Linked DNA regions of Homo sapiens: all the other regions are linked to region 2. The links come from fine-mapping of genetic effects on gene expression. A gene starts in region 2. Each other region holds a variant in brackets. All regions are shown on one strand. Distances are between the middles of the regions.

Evidence for each region. PIP is the estimated chance that this variant, and not a neighbour inherited with it, causes the effect.
Region 1: its variant is the best candidate, but not a certain one, in a credible set for the expression of ZC3HAV1 in whole blood (TOPMed, PIP 0.88).
Region 3: its variant is the best candidate, but not a certain one, in a credible set for the expression of ZC3HAV1 in whole blood (TOPMed, PIP 0.88).

Annotation. Positions count from the first base shown.
Region 1 is chr7:139,053,217-139,064,267 of GRCh38, forward strand. ZC3HAV1 (zinc finger CCCH-type containing, antiviral 1) reads right to left here. Exons shown (of 13, transcript NM_020119.4): 9 at 7,820-7,922; 10 at 1,989-2,079; 11 at 749-879; 12 at 235-365. Among named protein-coding and RNA genes, the nearest start is that of MIR10399, 15 kb to the left of the region's middle. The variant C/T (reference allele first, on the strand shown) is at 3,624.
Region 2 is chr7:139,107,203-139,114,838 of GRCh38, forward strand. It overlaps ZC3HAV1 (zinc finger CCCH-type containing, antiviral 1), which reads right to left and starts at 2,518. Exons shown (of 13, transcript NM_020119.4): 1 at 1,822-2,518. The coding sequence starts at 2,129. RefSeq lists enhancers at 1,417-1,546, 2,127-2,226, 2,171-2,674, 2,467-2,626.
Region 3 is chr7:139,047,355-139,052,907 of GRCh38, forward strand. ZC3HAV1 (zinc finger CCCH-type containing, antiviral 1) reads right to left here. Exons shown (of 13, transcript NM_020119.4): 13 at 1-499. The coding sequence ends at 240. It also overlaps the pseudogene RPL17P28. Among named protein-coding and RNA genes, the nearest start is that of MIR10399, 6.0 kb to the left of the region's middle. The variant G/A (reference allele first, on the strand shown) is at 2,110.

The DNA of each region.
Region 1 (11,051 bases), 52 kb before region 2:
ACTCCCAGAAAGAAAACAGAAGACAGGGACTAAGGTCCAGCAATCAAGCTCCAAGTCAACTGATTCACTCTCATTTGGGCATTTGATATTACCGTGAGCTTACTGTCTCTCCAGGACCACTAGAGCCTGGACACTCTGGTTAATACAAAATAATTACATATACCTCCTAATAGAAGCACATATAAAGCCCGAGTTATGACTCTACTAGTTACGCTTCTCTATCCCGGCACTAACCTTTTCCGTATTTGTTTTCATGAGTTTCATGTAGGAAACTGTCAAAATTATTCGAACAGATAGATTCCACATAGGCACGGCTTGTCGCATAAAATAGGAGTTTTCCTTCTTCCTTCATCTGCGATTTCTTCCTAATATAAGAGATGTGAGACTTAACACGGAGACATCCCCTTCCCACTCCAGTTGATAACATTAATCCCAGCTAAAGTCTAATCATCTAAAAATTTCACTCCATCAGCTTTCACAACGGAGCTACTAACTTTAAGGCAGCAGCTGTACAATAATAAATTTATGAAAACTTTTAAAAGATAGACACATGAAATCATTGAATTGTAAAGCAGTAAGGCTGAGAGAGAGAAGCCAGAGTTGATAGAATGAAAAAAAAAAAAAAAGACTAGCGCCTAAAGGAACTGTTAACTACTAAAATAAATCAGTGAATATAAATCTCAAAGGACGGATATTAACTAATCCTTTCCGGTTTTATGTAAAGAAACACGATAACGTGGCCACCAACCATGTAAATTTATCCAGGAGCTCTGAGTTCTCGATCTTCTTTATCTTTTCAATCTTGAAATTTTTCATGGAAGCTTTAAAATGCTCACTTACTCTGACATATTCTGGATGTAGGTGATGGATCTCTGACAACTAATAAAGTTTAAAAATAGATAAATGTGAAATAGGAAACATTTAAAGCATGATACATCCACATATGTGCCCCCTTATGCCATGAAGTATTGTTACCAGGGTTCTTTCTAACAGCAGATAGGATGAGCTGGCTTAGGGTTCCCACATCTGCCAACTCATTCCCGTAATTAATCAGAGAGGCAGCGGGCCTGTCTGTCCAGGCCAACTGAAAGCTAGCAAAGCACTGTGCCTAAGGGAAAAGGGAAGTCCCCTGCAGTCTGAGTTAGTCCAGTAACCTCTTCCCAATGCAAGGGAAGAGGAATTGAGGTGCCATGCAGTCCAAGCAGACCAGCCTGCACAAAAGCTGAAGCCAGCATGGGGAGGCTAAGCAATCTAGGAATAGTTGTGATCCAACTAGGTTAAGTGACACAGTGAGGCACAGTTTGTTTGACTCCCATAGAAACTTGTTAATTGTAACTAACGGACAAGTCACTTTTACTCTGTGAGTTCTAGTTTTCTTGTCCATAAAATAGAGATGTTAATATCCATTTCACATGGCTGTTGCGAGGATCTGCCCAAATGAGACTGTGTGTGGCTGAACTCTGGAAACAATGAGGTGCCTTGTAGCAGTTAGGTGATCTCTGGGAAAGAGAACCATTAGATGACTGCCTTTCTACCTTGATCTAAGAGTGTTTGTTGTTGTTGTTTGTTTTTTGGAGACAGAGTCTCACTCTGTCGCCCAGGCTGCAGTGCAGTGGGCAGGAGTGCAGTGGCGCGATCTCGGCTCGCTGCAACCTCCGCCTCCCGGGTACAGGCAATTCTCCTGTCTCAGCATCCCAAGTAGCTGGGACTACAGGCTCATGCCGCCATGCCCGGCTAATTTTTTTGTATTTTCGGTAGAGACAGGGTTTCACCGTGTTGTCCAGGCTGGTTTCGAACTCCTGAGCTCAGGCAATCCACTCGCCTCGGCCTCCCAAAATGCTAGGATTACAGGGCTGAGCCACTGCACCCAGCCGATCTAAGAGTTTTGCGGGAGCAATTCATTCATCCAGACAAACACATACACTTGTAGCAAAGTACTTTTTCTAACTTTTAACAGACTCATCCACCAAACATGTAAAACCAAGTACCTTATATTTCTTTGAGGATAGGAAGCAAAAGTCCTCCTGAGGACGAAAGGTCGCAGTTAAAGACACTGACGAGGTCTTTGCTGGCTGATGGCTACAAATAAAGAGAAAGAATTCACTTAACTCTCTGCTCCACAGGCCCAAGTGATGTTTTCTCTTAACTTCCAGCCACTAGGCCAAGGATGCCTAGAGAAATACACAATATTTATTTCTGTATTTTTCTCTGGACTACATCCTCACATATTCCTGGTATAGATGTACCAGTAATCATGTCTTTTAAAAATGCTGCAACTATTCATAATCGGTCAATTAAATGCCATTTTCCTATTGACTTAAAATGTAAAAGTATTGACTCTTTTTTATATTTCTGCTCAACTTTCAAAGGTCCTAATGTGTTAGCATTAAGCAAATGTGTCTTACAGCTTCTTGGTCAAAGGATAAACGATTAAATATATTAGGAATTTAGAGGAAAGAATTCTGCCTTTCCAGTATGAACTGTATTTCAGGGTAACCATACCTGAGAAGTAATTTTCTTTTTCTATCCCATAGAGCTAAAGCTACCAGAAAAATTCTTCTTTATAGATGAATCACACTAATAGTTGCAAAAGAGTTGATAGAATTAGAAAACCACCATTTGGCAATACTTAATGACATCATGGTTCTAAACAATCATTATCATTAGCTACTAAAACCATTAAGTGAAAGATCAGATGAATAGTATAGTGGAATGATCAGACTGGAATGACCTGAACCTACTCTGTGATCTCCATCACTAAAAATAGGACAATCAGACACTGTATATCTCTTCATAAGATGGGACAGAACCACTGGTACGAAGCCATCAATTGTATAGCATACTTGACTCAAAACTGAACCTAAATCTAATCAGTTCCCTAAATCTAATGATCAATTTATAGAAATTACACATCAAATGACCCCATGAGGAAACAATTTGCTAATCTGTTTTGAGACAGAGTTTCACTCTGTCACCCAGGCTGAAGTACAGTGGTGTGATCATGGCTCACTATATCCTCAACCTCCTGAGCCCAAGTGATCCTCCCACCTCAACCTCCCAAAGTGCTAGGATTATAAGCATCAGCCAGCATGCCAGGTTAATTTTCTACATTTTGAATTTGGAAAATTCTATAGGTCAAATCACCTAGTCGTTGTTTTTATTGTTTTTTTTTTTTCCTTTTTCTTTTTCTTTTCTTTTCTTTTTTTTTTTTTTTGAGACAGTCTCACTCTGTTGCCCAGGCTGAGTACAATGGTGCAAAGACAGCTCAACCTCCTGGGCTCAAGTGATCCTCCCACCTCAACCTCTTGAGTAGCTGGGACCACAAGTGTGTACCACCACACCTGTCTAACTTTTTAAAAAGTTTTTGTAGAGATGGGGTCTCAACTCACCATGTTGCCCAGGCTGGTCTTAAACTCCTGGGCTCAAGCAATCCTTCTGCCTTGGCCTCCCAAAGTGCTAGGATTACAGGCATGAGCCACCACACCTGGCCTATCTGATTTCTTAAAAATGAAATTGCATGAAAAAAGTAGAGGAGGGGAAACTGTAGTAGACTAAAAGATATTTATGACACAAATCAACCAAACACAATGTACAGACCCTGCTTAGATACTGATTTGCAATAC[C/T]TCAACTCTAAATAGTCATTGTTTAAGACAATGGGAAAACATAAAACGTGAACTGGGTATTAGATGATATTAAGGAATTATCATTAACTTTGTTACATAGGTTAATGATATTGTATTATGTTTTTTAAAACCTCTTACCTGTTAGGAAGACACCTAATATATATACAGGGAAATGATAACATGTATTGGATTTACATTAAAATATTCCAGCAAAAGAAAAAAAGTTAGGCCAGGTGTGGTGGCTCATCCCTATAATCCCAGCACTTTGGGAGGCCGAAGCAGGAGGATTGCTTGAGCTCTGGAGTTTAAGACCTGCCTGAGCAACACAGTGGGATCCCCCTCCCCATCTCTAGAAACATTTTTTTTAAATTATCCAGGTGTGGTGGTGCACGGCTGTAGTTGCAGCTACTCAGGAGGCTAAGGCAGGAGAATCACATGAATCCAGGTGTTTGAGGCTGCAGTGAGCCATGATCACACCACTGCACTCTAACCTGCATGCAGAGTGAGACTCTTTCTCAAAGAAAAAAAAAATTTAGAGGTGATGGTAGTAACAATATTGTTACCACTACTACAAATACGTTACAAAGATAGTAAAATATTGACAGTGTTTAAGTTGGATGATAGGTACTCAGGGGTTTATTATCAATTCTTTGTACTTTATGTTTGAAATTTTCCATGATCAAAACAATTACATTTTTTTTTTTTTTTTTTTTTTTTGAGACGGAGTCTCCCTCTGTTGCCCAGGCTGGAGTGCAGTGGCGCGATCTCGGCTCACTGCAAGCTCCGCCTCCCGGGTTCACGCCATTCTCCTGCCTCAGCCTCCCGAGTAGCTGGGACTACAGGCGCCCGCCACCACGCCCGGCTAATTTTTTTGTTATTTTTAGTAGAGATGGGGTTTCACCGTGTTAGCCAGGATGGTCTCGATCTCCTGACCTCGTGATCCGCCCACCTCAGCCTCCCACAGTGCTGGGATTACAGACGTGAGCCACCGCGCCCGGCCAACAATTACATTTTAAAAAATAAATGCTTGAAGGAAAAAACTCTTTAAAGAAGAAGGTGACTCATTAGAATGAGAAAGATTGGCCCCAGTTTATCTCTATTTTAAGGTCAGGTTTCCATTCTGGATTTGTATAACATGGGATAGACTGAATGAATATGTTGTAAGATGCCCATGAACAGTGACGTGTGCCGTAGTTCACTTCTATGTCCCACTGTAGTTCAGGATAGTACCCCAGCCCTTATTCTATCCTACAGCAAGTGTGTCTCCTTGGGCTAGTGAGAGCAGGATTAAATTTGGTTCTCTGCATGACCCACCCCCCACCCTCCCCCACTAACATGTTTTTCTAATTTATTTTTTTTATTCATGTGGCTGTTTATTATCACTATGTGCCATGCATTATACAAACTATTCCAAGACAGCCTGGGCAACCTGGAGAAACCGTGTCTCTATTAAAAAATAAAAAAATTAGTCAGGTGTAGCGGTGTGCACCCATAGTCCTAGTTACTTGGGTGACTGCAGTGGGAGGATCACCCGAGTCCGAGAGGTTGAGGCTGCAGTGAGCTGTGATTGCGCCACTGCACCCCAGCAACCTAACCCCCAACCCCCCCCCCCCCCACAAAAAAACACCAAAATATTTCAAGAGCTCTGAGGAGCTGATAATTGAGGTTGGTGGGGAGGGAGGGGGAAGGGAGGAGGAGGGAAGGTTGTGCTAGAGACATTTACATAAGTAACTGTATTACAAGGTAGAAGTGGGTAAGTACTATAAGGGAATCTCGAGTGTTGGAGAATTGGAGGAGAATCACAAGGAATGTTATAGTATGGGAAAGTGGCATTCCAGCTAAATCGTGAGGGGTGCTGTATTCATGTGAATGACGGGAAGGAGTATTCCTGGAGAGGGGAAGAGCAAATGGAAAAGCACGAAGCAACTCTGACATATGGAAGTTCTTGAGATCGACAATGGCTGACTACAGGAGCTATCTGGAAATGCCACAAAGCAATTTTTTCCCCTAGAAATACATGTGCACAGAAAGAACCATCCAGCTTGGCGTCAAGGTTTACTATGCTTTCCACAGTTCCTGCTGTCTGGAAGGGCCATAAAGCATGGTCTCACTAGTTGAGACTAACTGGGAGTATCTGAATTGTTAAAAAATCAAAATTACCGGAACTTTAAAAAAAAAAATGCAGTTTTGTTGCTTTAAGGAAAGACAGTTCCAACACACTTTTGTGAAGACATCCTGCCAGAACGATTGTAACGATTGTAACGAATGGAAAGCAGCTCTGATGATCTCATTCATTGGCTGAATGTGAACAGCCCCTCCCCATCCTCCTACTCTGCCTTTTTCCCCCACCTAACATTTGTCAGGAACTGAAATAGTTATTGCCTCATCCACCAGAATGTAAGCTCCCGTGAGGGCATGAGATTTACTCCTCTCTTCCCTAAACCCTGAAATATTCTTTTTACTTTATTAATTTGAATATTTAAACTACAGGAAGGGGCCAAGTGCAGTGGCTCATGCCTGTCATCCCAGCACTTTGGGAGGCTGAGGCAGGTGGATCACCTGAGGTCAAGAGTTCGAGACCAGCCTGGCCCTCACGGTGAAACCCTGTCTCTATTAAAAATACAAAAATTAGCTGAGCATAGTGCCATGTGCCTGTAGTCCCAGCTACTCAGGAGGCTGAGGCAGGAGAATCACTTCAACCAGGGAGGCAGAGGTTGCAGTGAGCCGAAATTGTGCCACTACACTCCAACCTGGGTGACAGAGTAAGACTCTGTCAAAAAAAAAAAAAAAATTTACTGAAAGGGACTTTAGATAGCTACACCAATCAGATTCTAATTCTTGGGAAATCAACTTGAGAAATTCAGAGAAAATTAGGCAGTTAGTGGCAGAAGATAAGGCTGAAGAGATATGCAGGTTGGAATTATGAATTAGAATTAAGTCAACTTAATTATATATATAGTTACTAAGTCTATTAATAGCAGGGGAATAAAAATAATAATAACCAGAGCAGTTAACATTTTCTGAACACCTGATCAGTGTTCGGAATGTGTTACCCAAGCAACCGTGAGGAAGGTATTATTATTAAGCCCATTTTACAGATGAGGATATACAGAGTGATTCATTTGTCCAAATCCACACAGCTAATGGGTGGCAAGGTGGAATTTGAACCTAGGTGAGCTAGATCCAGCATCCAGGCTGTTAACCTGGTCCCAAGAAAGAATCTTTGACTCTAGGCTGCTGCAGTTCTAAAGCAGAATAGGAAGCAACTCCCCTTCCTGAGGCCCTGATATAGCTCAGTTTCCATTCTTAGATTCTTGCGAGTTGTTTTCCATATGACTTCATAGTTATTTATCTTTTTAGTAACTTCCTTTTTCATCAAATAGCTTGAATTCTTACAACCAAAAGAACCTAGTTAGAACACCTTGATTTTATACTTCTCTTGAAGCCTGTTTTATGTAATCACACATCACCCAGAAAAAAAATATCCAACTCCAAAAATGTTCATGAACAATGTAGAGTTTACTGAGCAGTTCACAAGGAGAGTTACAATGAATCCCCCACAGCAACATTTCCTTTAAAATCCCTTCAATCAATATTATCTCTCACCAAAACCCTTGCTCTAACAGCTAGCTCATCCCTTTTTTCTATCTCTTTCTCCGCCCCTCATCCTCTATAAATCGTGTAGGAAAACAAAAGACACCCAAAAGAATCCACAGCAAAGCCAGGCACGGTGGCTCATGCCTGTAATCCCAGCACTTTGGGAGACTGAGGTAGGAGGATCACTTGAGCTCAGGAGTTCAAGACCAGCCTGGGCAACAAAGTGAGACCCCCTCTAAAAAAAAAAAAAAAAAAAAGAATCCACAGCAAAACAAAAACCCAGTATATATGATTATTCCTTAGGTGTACTGCATCAATCCAGCTCTTCACAGCTGGAGAAGCTAAAGCCCAGAGTATTTAGGAGACTCGCTCAGACTTCCCTTTCAGAAAGAAAATTCATTTTCCGATCTAGTATCCTTTCAGTCACACCATGCTGCTTAACAAGCATCTTACTCATCGATAATGCAAATGGAAACTGCAGAGTAATGCAAACAGGAACTTTTCAGGAAAACAGGCTCCAGATTCACGAGTGACTTGATGAGCCCAGGGCATGAACATCTCAAGCATCTGTCAGCAAACAGCTGCTTCAGAACACTTACTCTGGCCCTCTCTTCATCTGCTGCACATACCACTGAGGCACAAATGTTGGTCTTCTGATGACATCCTTTTGAGTTTTGGAAGCTATGTTTGTCTGAATCATCCCTTTGGACAGAAAAAAAAATAAAAGCAGTGAGAATCAAGATCAGCCCTAGAAAATGACTTCTTGTTATTTTGCAGAGGCTATTTACACGGCAAATATTCAAGACTGACCTGTATGTATACGAATAGAGAAAATCCTTTGGGATGAGAATTGCTCACAGTAAAAGACTTGTATCCTTCACTGCCATTAGTAGAAGGCTCAAAGCAAAGGAGTGAATGAATATTCAGGAATTAATCTCATCTTTAAATCCAAGTTGGATGGTAAAAGAGGAGAGCTGGGGCAGCCAAATAACAAGACACCATCCTTTCAAGCTTCCCTACACCAGACATCAGTGATTACGGGTTGGAATCTGGTAGCTGTCTTGAAGGGTTCTTTTCTACATCAAGTGTGAAATATCATTTTCAATTCATGCCGTAAACCTCAGTCCAAACTGTAACCAGAGTGAACCCTTCAGAAAGTAAGTCATAATACATTGCTAGTGAGAGTGTAAAATGAAACCACCACGTTGGAAAACAGTTTGGTGGTTTCTTATACAGTTAAATATGCACTCCTATGTGATTTAGCAATCCCATTTCTGGGTATTTACCCAAGAGAAATGAAAACCTGTATCCACACAAAGATGTGCACGTGAATGCTCACAGCAGCGTTATTATGATAACCAAAAAGGAGAAATAACCTAAGTGTCCATCAGCTGGTAAACAAATAAACTATGGAATAGCCTTACAATAACTTATTACTTATTCCTCAGTGATAAAAGAGGAACAACTACTATACATGCAACAACGCGGTTGAGTCTAAAAAACATTATTCCAGAGTGAAAGAAGTCAGCCACATGCAATGTGCCTACTGCAAGCGTTTATTAATATCAAATTCTAGAACAGGTAAAACAGGGACAGAAAGCAAATCAGCAATAGCCTGTGATGGGGATAAAGTGAGGTGTATGTGGTGTTGCTGGGGAAACTGATTGCAAAGAGACATAAGGAAACTTTCGGGATTGATGGAAATGTTCTATATCCTGCTTAGGGTGGTGGTTACACGCATTTGTCAATACTCATCCAACTGCACTCTTAAAATATGAAACAAACATAAACCACACACACACACACACACACACAAAGCAAATCAGATCATGCCACAACACTGCTCAAAATCTTCCCGGGACCTCCGCCTAATAAAATATCCAAGTTTCTATCACTGCTCTCATCTCTTACAGACCATCTACCTGTTCTGTGAAACTTCAAGCTGGTCTGTACCTTCCAGCCTTAGCCTTAGTTCTTCCTCCTCCTGGAGCGCCCTCCTTCCCACAGGCAGAGGCTGGTCTATAAAAGTAAGTGCTGTCCCACTGACTCCTCCATTTTCTGGCTGCTTCCTTGCACTGTTTCATTTTCTCCACCGTTTCATTTTCTCAGTAACTGTTACCACTTTCTGAAATGGCCTGACTTGTTTACTTGACCATTGTCTCTCACCACCCTTTTGAATACAGGCTCGAAGAGCAACTTCATCACTGTATCCCAGCACCCACAACAGGAGCCAGTACACAGCTGGCACTCAGATACTAGCTTAATGCATGACAGAATACACTTGCAGTCTAGTTCAGGAATAGAAAAAGGCGGACGGGTGCAGTGGCTCACGCCTGTAATCCCAACACTTTGGGAGGCTGAGGCAGGTGGATCACGAGGTCAGGAGTTTGAGACCATCCTGGCTAACACAGTGAAACCCCATCTCTACTAAAAATACAAAAAATTAACCAGGTGTGGTAGCACACACCTGTAGTCCCAGCTACTTGGGAGGCTGAGGCAAGATAATTGCTTGAACCTGGGAGGCAGAGGTTGCAGTGAGCCGAGATTGCGCCTTTGCACTCCAGCCTGGTGACAAAGCGAGACTCTGTCTCAAAAAAAAAAAAAAAAAAAAAAAAGAAAGAAAGAAAGAAAAAGAAAAGAAAAGAAAAAGCCATCTGGAACACTAGGAACCCATAAATTGCTCTGAACTGGTTTCTATGAACCAAACAAACAGAAGTAGCTGGACAAATTGCTCTAGATTCAGGAACAAAGTCTATTGGCTCTCATCTCTCCACCACCCTTTTAAACCATAAAAACAATACAATACCACCTAAGAATTTTTTTAATTTAAGTCATTTTTAATTCTACCACCCAATAGAAGAGATTTTAATTTTTCTTTATTATCTTCCAGTCGGCCCACATGCATGCATTGCTGCAATTATCATGCACATTGATTTTTGTGTTTTTTTTAACTTTCCTATTTTAAATATAAACAAAATTTCAGAAACATAAATTTGGGGTTCTGGCTGAGCACTATGGCTCATGCCTGTAATCGAAGCATTTTGGGAGGTTGAGGTGGGAGGATCGCTTGAGCTCAGGAGTTTAAAATCAGCCTGGGCAACAAAGTGAGATCCCCATCTGTACAAAAAAATTTTTAAATTAGCTGGGCATGGTGGCATGAACCTATACTCCCAGTTAGTTGGGAGGCTGAGGTGACAGGATCGCTTGAGCCAGGGAGGTTGAGGCTGCAGTGAGCCGTGATGGCATCACCGCACTCTAGCCTGAGTGATGGCGTGGGACCCTGTCTCAAAAAAAAAAAAAAAAAAAAAAAGTGTTCTGCCTTTTTCATTTAACAACACCAAATTTTGCTCTTCCTATCTAGTTTTCATAATCAAAATCTTTAACAAGTGCCAGATACGCCACTGAAATTTAATACCCTAATTTATTTAGTCACCACTGCACTGGTACAGACTGGTCCTACTTTTAGTACTATAGGTACTGGTTTTGGTCTAGTATTCTTCGGTCACACCATGCTGCTTAACAAGCACCTTACTTTATGCCTATAGCTTTTCTCCCCCCTTCTTCTAGTGAATTATTTCCTAAGAAAGGTTCCTAAGGGAATGAAAAGACAAACATATTAGCATATTTTAATGTCACTTGACATGTACTGCCAGACTGTTTTTCCAAATACTTGGTATAATGGTCCTTGTAAAAGCTACGTCATCTAAGGCCCACTAAGCGGTACAGGATCCAACTGCAGGTACCATCTGCGAATTCAGGGACCTCAGAAAGGCTCCTTTACCTCTTCCAAAGCACCTGCAAGTCCCGAAAGGGCAAGCACTTGATCATGTG
Region 2 (7,636 bases):
AGAGATTTCTTCAGTGACCAGCAATGACTTAGATGATTTCCTCGATACCCATAACTCCCAGCAACTCAGAAACAACCTTCAAATTGTTGCCCCACAACATATTAAAGAAAATTTTAAATAAAGGAACACATTCAAGCACTTTTTAAAAACGTTAGAGTGAGCTGAAAGGGTTTTTGCTCTAAAGAAATTTTTAAAAAAATACATTGCGTCCTCTACCTCATCCATCTAAAACACTTACCTTTGTGTGTTTTATTACACGTATATTGGGGGTGAGTGACTGGAGTTTTTGTTAGGTGCGTGATCAAAAGTTTGCCGACTGGTCGGACTTGGTGGCTTATGCCTGTAATCCCAGCACTTTGGGAGGCTGAGACAAGTGGATCACCTGAGGTCAGGAGTTCGAGACCAGCCTGGCCAACATGGTGAAACCCTGTCTCTACTAAAAATACAAAAATTGGCCGGGTGCGATGGTGCATGCCTGTAATCCCAGCTACTCGGGAGGCTGAGGCAGGAGAATCGCTTGAACCTGGGAGGTGGAGGTTGCAGTGAACCGAGGTGGAGCCACTGCACTCCAGCCTAAAAAGTTTGCTGACAACCATTTTAAACCCTGGGACACAAGTCAAAGTGTTTAAGAATGGGCCAAGTGTAAAAAGTACTGTATCGAGAAAAGTAATTGAGCAGAGCACATAGTGACAGAAAGGGTGGGAGGAAAGACTGGCCATTCATTAATTCAACAAGGCGTTCATTCAGTTCATTCAGAAATTAGATGGGAAGGCAGAATCCGCCAAGAAGGGAAAGAGACTTCACAAAAAGGACTTGGTGATGACAGATTGTGAGGAGGATTAAAACCCTGCCTGGGGGAAAAGATGAGTTTGACTCCATGGACAGGACACACGCGGGAGAGGAAGGGCTTGGGATCAAGGGAAAGGCCTGGGCAGCGAATGTGGACCTGGAAGCCATCTTTTTAGATGTGCAGCTGTCCTCGAGGGAGCAAGCTCTCTTAGGGAGAAACTGGGAAGAAAATCACTCAAGAGTCTTAACCCAAACCTTGCAGCGCATCTGCATTTAGACGAAAAAAAAAAAAGGCAAACGGAAACAACAGAAGCAGTGGCCCGAGACGTGAGCCACACTGCTTCAAAGGGATTTAAGAGAGTTGTCCCAAGGCAGGCGGTCAACTGCGCGCGCCACCGTAGAGAGACCACCCGGAGGGAAGGCCCGCGGCTGCTACAACTTCAGGAACCTGGAAAAGGGCCACCCCTGCTACGCGCCAGGCATCAGAAAAGCGGTGATGAGGGGCATGGGGGTGACCGGGAAGGGAGGGACAAGCAGAGAGACCTGCGGCTCGCTCCGGCGGAGACGGACCGGGGGCCCAGGGCGGCTGGGTTACTGGCTCCGCCACGTCTAGGGAAGGAGGTAGTAGGGAGGGAAAGACTCAAGATACCAAAGACGGGAGGCTCTTTCCTTCCTTCCCAAACCTGCCTACCGCTTCTCTAGGCCCTGGCTGGCTCCAGAGCACTTTATTCTTCTGATTCGTGCGGGCGGGCGGGGAAAGGGGTGGAGGTTGAGCCTGGTCTCCTCCAGGCACTAGCATTTTAGCCATTCTCGAGAAAATGTCTGGAGGTGCCGGAAGGAAGGGAACTGCAAAGGTAGAAGCGCGGGCCCTGCAGAGGCTCCCAGAGGGGAGCAGAGAAGGGAGTGGCTGGAGGCGGAGGCTGTCAGGTGCGGGGTCCCGGCGAAGCCGTGCCCCTCCCAGAACATTGCCCGCCTGGACAGTCCACCCCGACCACGGCTGCGGACAGCGCCCCTCCCTCCGGGTGCACTCACCGCTCGGACTGCGAATAGTTGCACCGGCCCAGCAAGTTGAGTTTGCAGAGATGCAGGTTATCGCAGGGTCTCTGGCAGTACTTGCGACGGCAGACCCGGGCTCGAGTGGTGGCCACCACCGATCGGGTGATCCCGGCCTCGCCGCCGGTCTCCAACACCACAAAGCGGTCGGGCCCGGCCACCTGCAGCACCTCACAGAGCTGCGGCTCAGACAGCGCGATCTCCTGGAGCAGCGCGTCCAGGGCCATGCGGCCCCCGTGGGCGCACAGGATTTTGGTGATGAAGCAGCACACCTCCGGGTCCGCCATGGCGCGCTGGCTGTGCTGGCTCTGCCGCGGCGCGGGACTCGGTTCCGCGGAAATCGGAAATCGAAACTTACAAGTGTCCAGGGGCGGGCGCGGGCGGTGCTACTGCTGGGCGCGCCCGGAGTCAGCGAGGGCGCGCTCTCCGTCGCCGTTAGCCCAGCCCAGCGATCCACTCTCGGCTCTCAGGTCAAGAGGCTAGATCTCACCGACCGGGTCCTAGTGGCAGGTTTACAGCCGGCCGCAAGGGCAACTGGGTGGAAAGAAAGAGAACGCGCGGGCAAATCTGCTGGTGACCGCCTGGGGTGGCCCCCTCTCGGTTCTAGGCTCGGCGAGGGTGAGGTTCTCCAGCCGGGCTCCGCGAGCCTTCTTTAGAAAGAAGAGAAACTAAAAGCGATCTTGGGGCTCTGGCCGGTGTTTTATAAGCCAGCCGACTGAGGCGTGTGACGCAAGTCCTGAGAGCCCTGTTGAGGAGTGCGCACCCCACCCATTCCCGGAAAGAGCAGACCCTAGCGAGCGCTTCCTGCGAGCCGTGCGCTCTGCCTCTGTTGGTAGTGAATCTTCCCAGCAACTCCACATGGTAGATATTATTATCCTCACCCTGAACTTGAGGAAGTAACTTGCACGAACACGCACTGGCATCAAGCGGAGCCCAGATGCCACCGAGTTTCCCCAAATCGCGTCCCCAGGCCCCAGATCGTGGTACCCCAGGCCCCGATGTGCAAGTTTCTCCTCCACCACCGTGCCCTCTTAAAGAACAACGATTGCCACTCTCCCTCGTTTCTGCCTTCTCACGAACTTTTGGACAAACCACTTCTTGACATGGTCTTGCTTACCTAGAATCGCTAACTCGGTGCCCTGAACCACTGCTTGTACCTCAATCACGGTGGACATGCTAAGACATATCCCAAGATTTCAGATCGGTTCCTCCCCGTAGAGATTGGGACAAGAACTTTTCCACCGTGGGGACGTACTTTGACCCCCAGAGTTGACATAAAGATTGTTTTTAAGTGAAAACATTGAGCTACAGAAGATGTAGAAAGAAATCTTAATGAAACTTCCCTTATCTGACTAAAGCAAAACCTCCCGAAAACATGGTGCCATTAAAAGCCTCTCGGAGTATTCAGCTGCCAGGAAGACAGACTGTCCCATTACCATTAGCACCAAAAAACCCAATGGGCTGGGTGCTGTGGCTCAGCCCGTAATCCCAGCGCTTTAGGAAGCCGAGGCAGTGGGAGGATTGCTTGAACCCAGGAGTTCAAGACTAGCCTGGGCAACATAGTGAGCTCTCTTCAATAATAATAATAATAATAATAATAATAATAATAATAATAATAATAAAAACAACCCGGGCATGGTGGTGTGCAGCCGCAGTCCCAGCTACTCGGGAGCCTGAGGTGGGAGGATTGCTTGAGCACGGGAGGAGGCTGCAACGAGCCGGGATTGTGCCACTGCACTCCAGCCTGGGGGATAGCGCTGAGACTTTGTCTCAAAAACACAAAACAACCCAATCAAAACTTCCAAACTCTCCTACTGAAGCCCTAAAACTTTCCTTTTTGTTAAGTTGAGGTATATAAACCTTTACTTTTGAGTTTTCTGTTACTGGAAGCTCCTGCATGCATGTGTAAATAAACTTTGTCTTTTCTCCTATTTATCTGTCTAGTGCCAGTTAATTTTTAGGCCCCCAAAGACAGGACACAAGTTGAAGAGAAAAAAGGTTTTTTTTTCCAACATCTTCAAATAAAATAGATGGGTCATTTGATCAGATAAGAAATACATCTTTTTAAAAAATAATAGATTCTGGTTGCTAACTTAGAAATTCTTCAAAATGATTAATGAGAATTCTCCTCAGTTTTGTCATTCATGGTATATAAACCCTCTTTCAGGAATAGAGTACTTTGTTATGAAAACCAGCCAAACATGGGGGCCACATAGGATCATCTTAGGATGTCTAAGAGGGACATCTTGTTCCCTCTAGTTGCTGCTTCTATAGTTGTCTTTTAATCCACTTGGCCTTATTTGTGGTCTGACAGGTTCCCAGGGACCTTTTATTATCAAATCAACTAAGTTCTAGATGTTTATTGACTATCTTCTATGTGGTATTTACATTAGTTAGTAATGTAAGGACATGCAGAAGTTTAAAAAACAGTCCCTGCACTCAAGGAGCATGTATGCGAAGACATGAAAAAATGCATGGAAATATAAGCAAATTCATGGGTAAATGCCACAATGGGAATATAGAAGATGAGAGACTGAAGAGTCTAGTTTGGCTACAGTGGTTGGGAGTACAGACATAGAATCTCCTCCAATTTGAAGCCATGAAAAATGATTTAAGGGCCAGGTGCAGTGGCTTGTGCCTGTAATCCCAACACTTTGGGAGGCCAAGGCGGGAGGATCATGACCATCCTGGGCAACATACTGTGAGATCCACCTGGGCAACATAGCGAGACCTCATCTCCACTAAAAATAAAAATTAGCCAGACATAGTGGTATGTGCCTGTAGTCCCAACTACTTGGGAGGCTGCGGCGGGAGGATTTCTTGAGCCCGGGAGTTCAAGGTTGCAGTGAGCTACAATTGTGCCACTGCACTCCAGCAAAGGCAACAGAGGAAGATCCTTTTGGAAAGGGAAGAGAGGGAAAGGGAAAGGGAAACGGAAATGGAAAGTGACAGAGAAAGGGAAAGGGAAAGTGAAAATGAAAGAGAAAGGGAAATGGAAAGGGAAAGGGAGGGAAAGGAAAGAAAGGAAGGGAAAGGAAAGGAAGAGAAAGGAAAGGAAGGAAGGGAAAGGAAAGAAGGGAAAGGAAAGGGGAAAAGGAAGGAAAAGGAAAAAAAGGAAGGAAAAGGAAAAGGGGAAAAAAGAAGGGAAAGTGAAAGGAAAAAAGAAAGGGAAAGTGAAAGAGAAAGGTGATTTAAGGAGTTCTGGGAAGGGAAAAGGAGACATTTTGAAAAATTTTGAAATATGTGCCATCAGAGATTGGGTTCTCCAGGAAGGAGATCCTGACATGGAGTTAAGAGTGCAGAACTTTCTCTGCACTTTTTCTGGGGCATAATGCCAGAAAAAGTCAAAGGAAAAAGCATGATTGATCCATGGGGCCTATCAGACTTTTGTGCGGACCTAACAAAGTCTCTGCCAGCCCAATGAGGAGCTCTGGAGTAGGAGTCCAGCTTTGGACAGAAAAGGCTAGGCCCTTGTACTGCCTTGCTCAGTCACCGGTGGGGGCCACCAGAGAAGTGGATGACTTCAGCTCGAATGCTGGGGCAGATCTTGAAAGAGCTAAAGCTGGAGGATATTGGCTAAACATGCTCCTCAAAGCTGGGCTGCAAGCTTGACCTGAGTGCCACCCTGTGTCAGCTGTAGTCCACCCTTTGTACTACATGGCTTTCTTTATCCATTTGTATTTAGGGAACAGGCTTTTCAGGGTCACTCTTCCTACAAGGAAGCTTACCAGAGAGAAATTAGTGGAATGAACTATAGTCCTTGTCACTGCAGTTGGTCTCAAGGCCACAGCTGGTGGTCTGGTCCTCATCATATCCCTCTACCACTATCCATTCCAATCCCTCTCACCCTTGGCCACCACCTCAGCTGCTCTCAGTAGCTTAATCTGGTCGGGTGCCCTATTTGAAAGTGGTCTGAGCACATCTCAGTCCCAGCTGGGCAAAGGATTACCAAGAGACACCAAAATAGGTCACCAGAATTCCATACATATTCCACCTGCCCACATTGTGTAACAACAGCCACACCTCCTGCTGACCAGCAACAGTTACCTCGAATAAGATGGCCATTCCCTTTCTTACTTGCTAGTCTCTGACCATTAGGAGGCCAAAGTACCTGGTGACAGCCATCACAGTAGTCCAGTGGGATCTCTGTGGTATCTCCAGGCAAGAGTGTGCCCCTTTGGGGAACCAAGACCTATAACTCTGCAGAGCCCAGCATTGCTGGGAGAGGAAATTGCAGGGGGTCATTGGAATTATACTAAGTAGGGCCACTCAGGCTTACCCATTCTTTCCAGACTCATGTATGGACACAGTACCATACTAACTTGACCGATTCAAGGCATATACCACGATGTTCTGGAGTCTGTGTCATCATTGTAGGGTATCAGCTCCATTCTGGTGCTTGACTCCATCTTTAACTAGCCATTCCAATACTTCATCCTATAGCTACTGGGTGGTGAAGTGTATGATAGGACCATGGATAGTACCATGTTCATGGGTTCATTCCCTCCACTTTCTGTGCCATGAAAAGATTCACCTGATAAGATGCTATGTTAAGTGTGATTCCATGTCTGTGGATCGGGCAATCTTTAAGTCTCCAGAAAGTGGTGCTACTGGCCGGGCACGGTGGTTCAAGCCTGTAATCTCATCACTTTGGGAGGCTGAGGCAGGGGGATCACTTGAGGTCAGGAGTTCCAGACCAGCCTGACCATCATGGTGAAACCCTGTGTCTACTAATAATACAAAATTAGCCGGGTGTGGTAGCACACGCCTGTAATCCCAGCTATTTGGGAGGCTGAGGCAGGATAATCGCTTGAACCCAGAAGGCAGAGGTTGCAGTGAGCTGAGATCGCACTATTGCACTCCAGCCTGGGCAACAAGAGTGAAATTCCATCTAAAAAAAAAAAAAAAGAGTGCTACTACTGAGGCTCTGCAGGGAGGAAGGGCAACCCCAAATCCAGAATAACTGCCTCTTCTTGTGAGAACCACCGATGGTTCTGCCAGGACAAAAGGGGCCCGATGCAGTCTACTGGTCCCCAAGTAGTCTATTGGTCTCCTTAAGGAATAGAGCTTAGCATTGGTCTTTATGGCTGGCAGATCAGACACTCAGAGGTGGCAGTAGCTGTGTTTATTTTGGCAAATGATAATCTATGCTGTTAGGTTCTTGCATCGCTTCCATCTCCTGGCCACCATGGCCTCTTTGAGCAGCAGTGGGGGAGGGGGCCTGTCACTAAGCCTGGCCAACATTAACTGGCCAAGTTATTTTGTGTAGTTGGCACATCTTTTGTGGGTCTTAATGTGATATGAACTGCCCACTTCCATACATCTATTCATATGCTTCCTTTTACTTTTAGGCTCCCAAACTCCCAGCCAGGCCACCATCACTGCCCATGAGACCATGTATGTTCTAACCCTAGGCCATACTCCTTCCATACGAAGTGATGACTAGGTACACTCTCAAAGCTCCTCCCGCTGGGGAGATTTTCCCTTACCACTGTTTTTCAAGGACTTCCCTGAGTGAGACTGTAATATAGCTGCCATGCATTTTCAGCTTGTACCCACATATTAAGCTAGCCCATCCTTAACGCAAACTTGGTCTTTTTCCCTCCTCCTTTAGCTGGTTATATGGGACCCCCTCACATGACCACAGGTGAGGCTGGGGGAGGGGTGCTGGTGCAACCGTAGTGAATGACATGGAAATCTGGGCTAATTGCTCATGCAGCTTGAGTGTGCGTGTGCCCTCTGGTCCCACTTGTGTTCAGTCCCAGATGTACCAGTTTTATCCTATGATGGCTTT
Region 3 (5,553 bases), 61 kb before region 2:
AACTGCCTGGCGCTGACGCCCAGAAATGATTTCATTGGCATGGGGTGCAACCTGGGCATCAGAATTTGTTTAAAACCTCCCAGATGATTCTAATATGTAGCAAAATTTGGGGACCACTGATCTAAGACATTAGATAACTGAGCAGGAAAATATAAAACTTTAACTCCTGTCTGCGGCAATTTAGTTCTGTAAAGGAACAGAATGGTTATGGCATCCTTCTGACGCTGTATTCATCGGTTCTAACTAATCACGCAGGCTTTGTCTTCAGTATATTCAATCACATATTGTGGGTAAACCTGATCTTTCTGAAAGATGACAAAAACGGAGGGATTCGATCTGGTATCCACACAGCTGTCGAACTGTGGAGGAGGGCTCGTGTACGTTATATTTCCTTCAGTAAACTTTCCAACCAGAACTTGGGCTACAAACATAACGACGTTTTTGGCATCATACGGGCAATTTTTGTGGGAATAGATGGCATCTTTTGCAAAGTAAATTCCTAGAAAGAATCAGAAAGAAAAGTTAAGAAATATTATAAAAGAAGGTATACAGTTTATAAGATTTGTTATATACAGTCAGATGGGTGTGGACTAAGCATATGTCAATAATACCTTACTGATATTTATAAACTTTCCTTTGCACTTAAAAACATGTTAATGATGCAGGCGAACTTAAATACAGTATATAACCCTATAGAAATGACTGAGGAATATTTGCTACAGTGCAGAGCTCATGCTGATAGTGTGAGCCATTGGGTGCAATGACCAAATGACAATGTCACAGTGGCCCAATTCATGCAATTCACCCAGTGTGAGCTGAATGAGCAAACTTGGAACTGATGAGTCAGTTGATGCTTCGTCCTCAACTCTAAAACAACCTCAGATAACGATTGCTGCTTCCATACACAGCAGACCAACAATTTCCTGCCAAGTTAAAATTTTTATTTTTATCATTGTCAAGTGCTACTCTGGGCAGGTGCAGTGGCTCATGTCTGTAATCCCAGCATTATGGGAGGTTGAGGCGGGTGGATCACATGAGCCCAGGAATTTGAGACCAGCCTGGGCAACATGGGGAGACTCCATCTCTACAAAAAATTTAAAAATTAGCCGGGCATGGTGGCGTGCACTTGTAATCTCAGCTACTCAGGAAGCTGAGGCAGGATTGATTGAGCCCAGGAAGTTGAGGCTGCAGTAAGCTAGGATCATACCACTGCACTCCAGCCTGGGCAACAGAGTGAGATTCTGTATCAAAAAATACTAATAATATTTTCTAAGAAAGCTACTCTGTCGTTTTAAAGACCATGAGTAGATATTGCAACTCCTATTTCCATGCAAGAATCAATAAGTAAAATGAATTGTTTTACTTGTGGTAACAAATGTTTAATATACTTCCCATCTACTTTGTTTTTGTTCTTTTTATCATTTTATAGTTAGATGTTTGAATTCCAGAAACATTGCTTATCCTGAATAGGTCAGATACTAGATATTCTGTGCAAATGATGTTCTACTATATTTAAAGTAAAATATGGAAGTCTACCTATACTGACCTACGACGTCCAATCCCACTCCCCTTCCCAAAACAGTTTATGGCTGGCGGGAATTCTTTCACACCTGTTTCTATGCATTCACATACATATATGTGCATATGGTGGTTTATGGTGGTTTACTTGTTCATAAATAGGATCATAATATATGAACTGTTCTACAACTTTTTTTTCCACTTTAGTCCTAGAAATCTTGCTATGTCAGTACATCCAACTCTCTCTCTCTCCTTTTTTTTTTTTTTTTTTCGTTGTTGTTGTTGTTGCTGCTGTTTTTGAGACAGGGTCTCTGTCACCCAGGCTGGGGTGCAGTGGTGCAATCTTGGCTCACTGCAGCCTTGATATCCTGGGCTCAAGCAATCTTCCCACCTCAGCCTCCCATTCTAATCGGTGCGAGGCAACAGCTCATTGTGGTTTTAATTTGCGTTTGCTTGATGATTAGCGATGTTGAGCATTTTTTCATGAACTCATTGGCCATTTGTATTTCTTCTTTTGAGAAATGTCTATTCAAGTCTTTTGCCCATTTTTGAAACTTTTATTTGCATGTATTTTACGCTGAATTTATTCCC[G/A]TGCTGTAAGTTTTTGCTTCTTCAGTATCTTCTAGGATAGCTTTTTCTTCTGTGCACCTCCTCTTCTGGTTTAGGAACACGGTGTGCTTCTTCAGGAAGATTGTCTCTATGTGGCAGGGGGAGCTTAGGCATGAGTTAATCCAACCATGAGCTCTGGAAGTCTGGTGGCACATCTTGGGTGCTTTGTGCGCCTGAATATCCTCGACGACCAGAGAATCTACAGCTCAACCCTTACGTTCAGCATTACTCTCTGCATTTTTAAGTGTGTACAGCAAGAATTCAATTCTTTTGGGGTCACAAACTGCGTGCCCAGCCCCACTGTTTGGTCTGGGCACTCCTACCAACTCCACCCTCGTAACGTTGGAATGGTACACATTGTTTCCATACAGTGACATCTTTCAGACATTTGCTGGCTTTTCATATAGGCGTACTCTTGATGGCCTGGGCAGTTTCATGGGTGTCCTTAGAGTGAACATGAAGATTTGAACCTCTTTATTTGCATGATTTCATGGAGTTTTCTGGGTCAAGTGAATAGTGAACCATTTTCACAGATCACCGCAGGCCACTTATGGGAACAGCTTGCACATTTTAAAATTGAGTTATTTGTTCTCTTGCTGTTGAATTGTTTAAGTTCCTTACATATTTTGGATATTAATCCCATATCAGATGTATGGCTTGCAAATATTTTCTCCCACTCTGTGGGTTTGTCTGTTCACTTTGTTAATTGTTTCCTTTACTGTGGAGAAGCTTTTTAGTTTGATGCTATCTCATTTGTCCATTTTTGTTTTTGTTGCATCAGTTTTTTTATATCACACTTATATAATCTGGAATCTATATTTTCTTTTTTTAAAATTCCCTTTATTGTGTTAAGAAAGTTCATTTCTATTCCTACATTTCTGAGTGCTTTATTTTTTTCTTTTTTGAGACAGAGTTTTCCTCTGTCACTGAGGCTGGAGTGCAGTGGCAGGATCTCAGCTCACTGCAGCCTCCCCTTCTTGTGATCAATCAACTCTCATGCCTCAGCCTCTCGAGTAGCTAGGACTACAGGCATGTGCCACCACGCCCAGCTAACTTTGTATTTTTATTAGAGATGGGGGGGTTTCACCATGTTGGTCAGGCTGGTCTCAAACTCCTGACCTCAGGTGATTCACTCACCTCGGCCTCCCAAAGTGCTGGGATTACAGGAATGAGCCACAGTGCCTAGCCTAACATTTCATTTTTTAGGATAAATATTTGTTTGAATTCTAACATAGGATAGACCTGTAAGAAACTGATGGGTTTTAATTTCACCTATCATATGTCACTTAAGATGGTTACTACATTTCCCATTTCCTCCAAACACTTCTAGGTAAGTTTCACTGATACATTTAAACTTAATAAACTTATGAAATCTCATCAATAAATTCATTCCCCAGCTTAAAACCTTTCATTAGTTTCCCATGCGCTTACAGTCAAGTTTAGCTCTTTATGGTCATACCTTGTTCCATTTCTCCCTTCTCCGCCATGTGGTGACTCTACAAGGCAGGGGAATCCTACTCTATCTCTATCCTTGGGAACACCTCTCTAGCTGGGTTAGTTGTCCACAGGACCTGTTCCTTTTTTTCTTTTTTCTTTTTTTTTTTTTTGAGACGGAGTCTCGGCTGGTGTGCAATGGCATGATCTCAGCTCACCGCAACCTCTGCCTCCCGGGTTCAAGCGATTATCCTGCCTCAGCCTCCCAAGTAGCTGGGATTACAGGCATGGGCCACTGCACCCAGCTAATTTTTGTATTTTTAGTAGAAACGGGGTTTCACCATGTTGACCAGGCTGGTCTTGAACTCCTGACCTCAAGTGATCTGCCTGTCTCGGTCTCCCAAAGTGCTGGGATTACAGGCGAAGCTGCCGCGCCTGACCTGGATCTGTTATTTTTCTCTATAGCAGCCCAACATTTGCAATCATTTAATTTTTTTTTTTTTTTTTTTGAGACAAAATGTTGCTCTGTCGCCCAGGCTAGAGTACAGTGGCACAATCACAGCTCACTGCAGCCTCAAACTTCTGGGCTCAAGCAATTCTCCCACCTCACCCTGCTGAGTAGATGGGACTACAGGCATGTGCCATCATGCCCAGGTAATTAAAAAAATTTGTTTGTAATTAAAACAAAAAATTAGATAAGGTCTCGCCATGTTGCCCAAGCTGGTCTCCAACTCCTGGGCTCAAGTGATCCTCCCACCTCAGCCTCCCAAAGTACAGGAATTACAGGTCTAAGCTACCATGCCTGGCCACAGTCATTTAATTAATTATGTAAGATAATTATGCAAAATGTGTTTGGGGCCATGTCTAACTTGTTCACCACTGTGTACCCACCATCTAGTGTACAGAAGACACTCAAAAATATTTGCTGACTGGCTGATTGACTTCTTGCCTTTTGGGGCAAGAATTGAATTTAATCCTAGTTGTATGAGTTGAACTCACTTTGAATCTGTGATAAACTATTACTTATTTCCTAAAGATGACTGATTCTTAGTTTTTTTTTTGTTTTTTTAATTTTCTAGTTTTTATTTATGAAGTTAATTCCCTCAAACATTAAGCTAAGTGTGAAGTGCAGTTTTTAGTAAGCTTGCTTATTAGTTAAAAATGGACAATAAACATTTACATTCATAAATATTTCTCTTTTTTTCTTTTTTTTTCATTTTATTGTTATTTTACTTTAAGTTTTAGGGTACATGTGCACAACGTGCAGGTTTGTTACATATGTGTACCTGCGCCATGTTGGTGTGCTGCACCCATTAACTCGTCACGTAGCATTAGGTATATCTCCTAATGCTATCCCTCCCCCCACCCCCCTCCCCTCTGGTTTGTTTGTTTTTAAGAGTTGCATGCAGGCCAGGCGCAGTGGCTCACACCTGTAATCCCAGCACTTTGGGAGGCCAAGGCAGGCAGATCCCCTGAGGTCAGGAGTTCTAGACCAGCCTGACCAACATGGAGAAACCCAGTCTCTACTGAAAATACAAAATTAGCTGGGCGTGGTGGCACATGCCTGTAATCCCAGCTACTTGAGAGGCTGAGGCAGGAGAATCACTTGAACCAAGGAGGTGAAGGTTGCAGTGAACCGAGATCGAGCCATTGCACTCCAGCCTGGGCAATAAAAGCGAAACTCTGTCTCCAAAAAAAAAAAAAAAAAAAAAAAGAGTTGCATGCATCCAGGAGCAGTGGCTCATGCCTGAAATCCCAGCACTTTGGCAGGCCAAGGTAGGCGGATTATTTGAGCTCAGGAGTTGAGACCAGCCTTGGCAACATGGCGAAACCCTGTCTCTATAAAAAATACAACAAAAAAAAATTAGCTGGATGTGGTGGCACACACCTGTTGTCCCAGTTACTTGAGGGGCTGAAGTTGTAGGATCACTTGAGCCCAGGAGGTTGAGGCTGCAGTGAGCCGAGATTGTCACCCAAACTGGGTGACAAAGT